2 linked regions of the Homo sapiens genome follow. The protein of the gene in region 1 purifies or fractionates together with the protein of each later gene. This does not show direct contact. Each region holds a gene or a part of one and is shown on either strand. Other genes may lie near its edges. The genes, in order: TMEM44 and COL1A2.

The links.
Region 2: the proteins of TMEM44 (region 1) and COL1A2 purify together in Homo sapiens (affinity purification with mass spectrometry; one large-scale study listed by BioGRID and IntAct). This does not show direct contact.

Annotation. Positions count from the first base shown.
Region 1 is NC_000003.12:194,609,164-194,612,986, forward strand, and holds part of TMEM44 (transmembrane protein 44), read right to left. Parts: intron 1,858-3,823; coding exon 1,753-1,857; intron 1-1,752.
Region 2 is NC_000007.14:94,428,781-94,432,020, reverse strand, and holds the end of COL1A2 (collagen alpha-2(I) chain precursor), read right to left. Parts: intron 2,834-3,240; coding exon 2,591-2,833; intron 1,775-2,590; coding exon 1,628-1,774; 3' UTR 794-1,627; downstream 1-793. UniProt on the Homo sapiens protein: Type I collagen is a member of group I collagen (fibrillar forming collagen).

The sequences.
Region 1 (3,823 bases):
GTTGGACGAGGTAAGCGTGAGATGCCATATGGTGACAGCTGAATGGGCAGCTGGGCAGCCGAGATGGGAACTGAGGGGAGGGGAAAGGACGGAGACACGAATGGGGGAAGTCAGCAAGAACTGGTGTGCAGAGCGAGGGGACTGTGGGACTGCAGGGCCCACCAGGAGCAGGGAGCCTGCCTGGGACAGGGCGTTGGACTCCCTCTCTACAGTCAAGCTTACCCAGAGGAGCCAGCAGAGGCCGAGGGGAAAGAAGAGCCTGTGAGGGTGGCAGGAAACACAGAAGAGTGGGGGCCACAGACGCCAGGAGCAGCTGGTGGCCGAGTGCGTGGACTCTCAGAATGGAATGATGGTGGACTTAGCAGCTTGGAGGTCATCGGTGACCTCGACAAGACAGTCTTGGTGGAATAGTGGGACATGGGGTGAACTTCTCGTCACCTCTTTCCCAATTCTCTTCCTCCTGAGGACCCCTCGTGTAGGCCAGAACTCAGGGAGTCACCCGGAGCCCTGCCTCCCTCACCCGCACCTCCTCACCCCTCCAGCGCTCCACTTCCCAACTCGCTCAACTCTGTCTCTGCTTCTCCGTCTGCTCCAACCTCAGTTTAGGCCACACTTCCTTTTCCTCGGGCTTCCAACTGGCCCTGACTGACTGCTCGGCTGCTACTCTCCTCTCCCCCAGGCCACCCGCAACAACTTCCCCAGATGGCTCTAAAATGCACATCTGACCCTGAGTCTCCAGTACTCAAGCCTCCTGACTCCCATCACTCTCAAGATGATAGACACGGCCGGACGCAGTGGCTCACACCTGTAGTCCCAGCACTTTGGGAGGCCGAGGCCAGCAGATCACGAGGTCAAGAGATCGAGACCAGCCTGGCTAACATGGTGAAACCCCGTCTCTAGTAAAAATACAAAAATTAGCTGGGCGTGGTGGCAGGCTCCTGTAGTCTCAGTTTCTCTGGAGGCTGAGGTAGGAGAATCACTTGAACCCGGGGGGCTGCAGTGAGCTGAGATCATGCCACTGTACTCCAGCCTGGGCGACAGAGTGTCTCAAAAAAAAAAAAGAGAGAAAAAGATGATAGACTCCGTGTCTAAACGACCCGACCCCTGCCTCCTCCAGCCCTTTCATCTCCCCTCACTCCTAAATGGTACCAGCATATACCACCCCGAAATATGCCTCTTTAGCATATGGATTCCTTAGATCTAAAGGTCTTTGAAAACCAGCAGAAGCAGAAGCTATTAACCTCCCCTAACTGCCTGAAAAGAGAGTACACATTTTCCCTTTCATAAAGGAAATTTCCATTTGTAAAGATATTTCTGCACCAGGAAGAGAGCTACTTCCACCCGAGAGACTCTCACCTGCATAGCAAGAAAACCCTTATTTCCCACACAGGTCCTCCCTCACCTTGCCTCCCACCCCAGAACCCCAAACCTCTTTTTCTTGATTTAGCCTAATATGGTATATACGCCTCCATCAACTGGCCACCTCCTTGAGCCACATTTTTCTTTGTACATTTAAAGCTGTTTTTTCTTGTTACTCTGTGTTTCATCAGAGGGGACAGGGAAAATATTTTTCTCTCCAACACTCCCCCATATCTGCCCCTCCACTGCAGCCTTGGACAGCTCCTTCTTTTTTACCTGCTTCTCTTGTTTTCTCCTGCTCATCCCTCAGCTAAAGCATCACCTCCTCCAGGAAGCCTTCCATGACTGCTTCCCATCCTCTCAGACACCTGGCCATGACCGATGGCCACTCACCTGCTGCACAGGCTCGATGGTCAGCTCCATGTAGCGACTGATTGCTGTCATTGTCCTCAGTGACTTGCAGTGTGACAGTGTGGTGAGAGGCACCCAATCCAAATTCTTGCAAGTAGAGGCAGGGAGACAGAAAGGGGAATTCTCAAAGTCAGGAGGCATTTTCTAAAAACAAGGTCACATTTTATTCAAAAGGACCCCCGTGGTATTTTCTCTCTCTCTTTTTTAACGGCACGTCTCACTTTCTGCTTCCTATAAGATGTGTCTTATCTTTCTCTTCGAGGCCACAGTCATTTAGTGTTTCCCAAATTTTGCAACACAGTAGAATCAGCTAGGAATCTTTTTTATTTTATTTTATTTTTTGTAGAGACCAGTTTCACTGTACTGACCAGGTTGGTCTCAAAGTCCTGGGCTCAAGTGATCCACGAGTGATCCTCCCACCTCGGCCTCCCAAAGTGCTGGGATGACAGGCGTGAGCCACCACACCCGGCCTATTCTGCTTTTTAAGATCCCCAGCTGAGCAGCGATCTGGAGTGAAGCTGTGATCCAGGCACTGCATTCCAGCCTAGGGGACAGAGTGAGACCCTGTCGTACAAACAAAACAAAACAAGGAATGCCTACTTCCCACTTCCAGACATTCTGATTTCATGGGTATGAGATGTAACCGGGAAGTGGATCGTTTAAACGCGCCCCAGATGATTCTAACGTGCGGCCAAGTTTGCGAACCACTGCAATAGGTGCCCAATAAGTGCTTTTGCAAAGCTGTGGTTCTCTAACCTTGATGCACATCAGAAGCACCCTGTGGGTTTTGCTAAAATACAGATTGCAGCCGGGCGCGGTGGCTCACGCCTGTAATCCCAGCACTTTGGGAGGCCGAGGCAGGCCGATCACCTGAGGTTAGGAGTGCGAGACCAGCCTGGTCAACATAGTGAAACCCTGTCTCTACTAAAAATACAAAAATTGGCTGGGCAAGGTGGCGTGTGTCTGTAATCCTAGCTACGTGGGAGGCGGAGGCAGGAGAATCGCTTGAACCCAGGAGGCGGAGGTTGCAGCAAGCTGAGATCGTGCCACTGCAATCCAGCCTGGACAACAGTGAGACTCCGTCTCAAAAATAAATAAATAAATAAATAAATAAATAAATAAATAAAATACAGATTGCTGGACCACACCCTCAGTTTCAGATTCGGGAGATCTGGGTGGAGCCCCCAAATCTGCATTTCTCACAGTTTCCCAGGTAATCCTGGTCTAGGGCCCACACTTTGAGAACCACTGCTCTGAAGAACTGCTAGAGACTCCAGAGGCTTCTACTTCTCTCTTCAGAATTCCAAGACACACAGGGCTCTGTTAATATTTTGGCCCCCTTTTGGAATATAATTTCCTAACAGTTGCTAGAAAGAAATGAAAATAACTTCCCACTAGGGCCTCATGGGAACGTGGCTCTTTGGTCTGGGCACCTATATAAAAAATGCTTTCCTCTGCGTCACATACACCACGATCTTCTATTTCACGGACTCAGTCGGATCACATGGTTAAGCCATTTGGAGAACATTCGGAGGGGCAGTTTTTGTTTTTGTCGGTCCAAATGCACTCCCCATCACTTCCTCCATCCTGGCCACGGAGGAAGTTACTCACAGCCTCACACCCACTCTCTGTGAGAGGAGTCTAAGGTAGTGAAGAGCCCAGGTAATAGATGAGAGTTTTTTCCAAAAAAAAAAAAAAATTGAAATCTTAGAAAAGAGGGAGCCATTTTATATTCAAGTCCTTTTTTTTGAGACGGAGTCTCGCTCTGTCGCCCAGGCTGGAGTGCAGTGGCGGGATCTCGACTCACTGCAAGCTCCGCCTTCTGGGTTCACGCCATTCTCCTGCCTCAGCCTCCCGAGTAGCTGGGACTACAGGCACCCGCCACCGCGCCCAGCTAATTTTTTGTATTTTTAGTAGAGACGGGGTTTCACTGTGGTCTCGATCTCCTGACCTCGTGATCCGCCCGCCTCTGCCTCCCAAAGTGCTGGGACTACAGGCCTGAACCACTGCACCCAGCCTATATTCAAGTCCTTACAAGCTTTCTTTGAGTTAC
Region 2 (3,240 bases), on another chromosome or scaffold:
CTTTTTAAGGTTAATATTACATTTTTACCATGTTCAGTCTTTTGCCTTTAAAACTAATTGAATCTTGAGATGACTTATAACACAAGGCAAATATTACAATCACAATTATGTTCTGCAACAGGAAATAAGCTCTAAATGAATCTTAACATTTTACTTGACACATTACTATGTTTAAGTGTATTAAAGATGTTATTGAAAGGTGCAGGGGAGGAAAATGAACTTGATTTGGCAGGTAGGTGTTCGTGGTACTATTATCCACAACTGTCTATCCTGATTGACAGCACACACATTACCTCTTAACAGGCATTGTATTCAGTTGCCTCAGATTTAAGTGTATGGCATTTTTACTGAATATTTGAAACTGTTTTAGTTAATAGTATTAATTGCTCATAGACCAACTTTCAGCCACTGTTATAAAGTGCTTAATATATAATAAACCAAGTTTCTATAGACCTTTGGTTATAGTAAAATTAGGTCAAAAATGCCATGTTGCTTAAATATTACATATTTTGAGTAGGGCAAATGCTTAATAGTGCTGAAAAGGAATTTTTTCATATTATAGCTATGGAAACTGAAATGCAGAGGCTCAGAGTTTCAAGGTCACTCAGCCACAAGGAACAGAGCCAGAACTGGAGTTCAGCTCTCCTGGGTCCTCGTTCTCTGCTCTTTCTACCACACCAAACTGCCCTTTTTGCATAATTTCTATCTAATCAGAGGCACTTGGTCTAATGGCTGGTAGAGATGCATATTTATATTGCAAAGAGCATTGAAGCAAGGAATTTTACTCAATATGTTCTTTTGGAAAACCAAACATGCTTTATTTCATTTTTTTCACAATTTATTTAAACATCTCACATATACAAAATAGGTACAATTTAATTTTTCTGCTTGCCCAAGAAACAAAGCTTCTGTGGAACCATGGAAGAAGATGAAAATGAGACTGGCAAAGAACAAATGCTGAATCTGAAGAAGATTTGGGCAAATAATCTGCATACTTTTAATTGGGAATAAGATGGAAAATATGAATGCTAAATCAAATTTTTTAAAAAATACACCACACGATACAACTCAATACAGGAGTATTTCTTCTCAAATTCTTCTAGCACCATCAACATTCTTCAAGTATCTGAAATACTATTAATTAGCACCTTTGTATTATGAACAAAACAAAACAAGGACCTCAGTTCATCTCTGTCTAGGTCAGCACCTAACAATGTGGATCACACTCATGGGAAAGTGTTTTGAGGTAGTTTAAACCTTTGGAAGTTTGGGTTTTAAACTTCCCTCTGTGGAAGATATTCAAAAGCCACAAGTGGTGCAAATGTTTATGGTTTTTATTTTTCAATTTTTATTTTGGTTTTCTTACAAAGGTTGACATTTTCCATAACAGGTGTAAGAGTGTTGAAAAAAAAATTCAAATTTTTGGGGGAGCGGGGGAAGGAGTTAATGAAACTGTATTGCACAATGCTCTGATCAATCCTTCTTTTTCTCTTTTGCCCACAATTTAAGCAAGTAGATGTGCAGAAGAAATGGAAGGATTCAGCTTTCAGTTAAAAAAGAAGAAGAAGAAATGGCAAAGAGAAAGTTTTTTCAAATTTCTTTCTTTTTTAATTTAGATTGAGTTCATTTATTTGAAACAGACTGGGCCAATGTCCACAAAGAATTCCTGGTCAGCACCACCGATGTCCAAAGGTGCAATATCAAGGAAGGGCAGGCGTGATGGCTTATTTGTTTTGTATTCAATGATTGTCTTTCCCCATTCATTTGTCTTTTTCTGTTTAAAGAGAAGAAAATAGATACACAAAGCATCACTATTTCTGAATCTGATAATATCTGAACCTTTGATTTAATAAGAACCACTGTTTGGCATGTGTCATTCTGAAGATGTCTGTCCCAGATAAATAAGTTCATCCTTGAAATAACAGTATCAAGGGTGTCTTTAGTGGGAGGGGCTCCCTATCAGTCTAACAAAAAACAAACAAACAAACAAACCAAAAAAACCAACAACATTTCAACACACATTCCAAGTGACCTATCTCTACAAAGTCATTTTTAGGATTGTTGTGTGTATGTCCCTCTATGTGTGTCTTTGGGAGCGGGACCTGGGTGGGTATGTAGTCTTGCTGTTAGTGAATTTTAATTTTTCTTATATTTATAGCATATTGTAGAAAAAGCATTAAAAGTTAAATGTAGGCCATACTAATAAGTAAAATAAAATACACATAACTATAAATTATAGTTTAGGCCACTGAAGTCTCAAGAAATTTTAAGTTCTGGGCACACATTACCATTTAAAAAACATGCTAAAGAAAAAACAATGCATGGACATAGTATACATTTCAGCATTTCAGAAGGCACTATCTGATAAGAATACTCTGAATTTATCATCTGAATTTAAGTACGAAATTAATACGTATAAATAAATAAATATAAAATACATACAAAAACTGAATTTACTTATGAAATAAGTTAGTTCTCTCATTCTTCTGTTCTTTTAACCCCCCTTTAGACCCCCCCTTGGGGGCAGTCTAAGTTAGAACCCCCTCCATCCCACTTCCCAAAGCTATTCCCATATTTCACTATTACTTACAGAGCAGCCATCTACAAGAACAGTGTAAGTGAACCTGCTGTTGCCCTCAGCAACAAGTTCAACATCATTAGAGCCCTGTAGAATGACAGCCTTTTTCAGGTTGCCAGTCTCCTCATCCATGTATGCAATGCTGTTCTTGCAGTGGTAGGTGATGTTCTGAGAGGCATAGTTGGCCAGCAGGCGCATGAAGGCAAGTTGGGTAGCCATTTCCTTGGAAGTCACTCCTTCTACATTATATTCAAACTACAGAAAATAGGATGAAATTCCAGTTAAGTGGAGAAGGACTCAGATACTAAGAGTCAAACATGAAAAAAAAAAAAAAGAAAAAAAAAGATCTCAGGAAGAGTAGACTCAGATCCAAGCTTAGGAAAAGGGTACTTTTAAAGAAAACTTAATTCACTTGTCTTTGAAGTATCAGTTACCTAGATGAACATAAGACCTACTAGACTGAGGCAAGGTCATCTAAAAAAGTTATCTGTTTCAATTAATCCTTTTTGCATATGCTTCTTCTTTAGAATAAGAGAATGAGGAGGTAGAAATTCTGACATTTTTCTTTTTCTGTCATTTTGTAATTTATGGAATTCCAGTAGGCATTCAGTAAAGTTGGTGAAAAGGTTTGATTAAAAATTCAGAAAAGCTGCTCACATTCT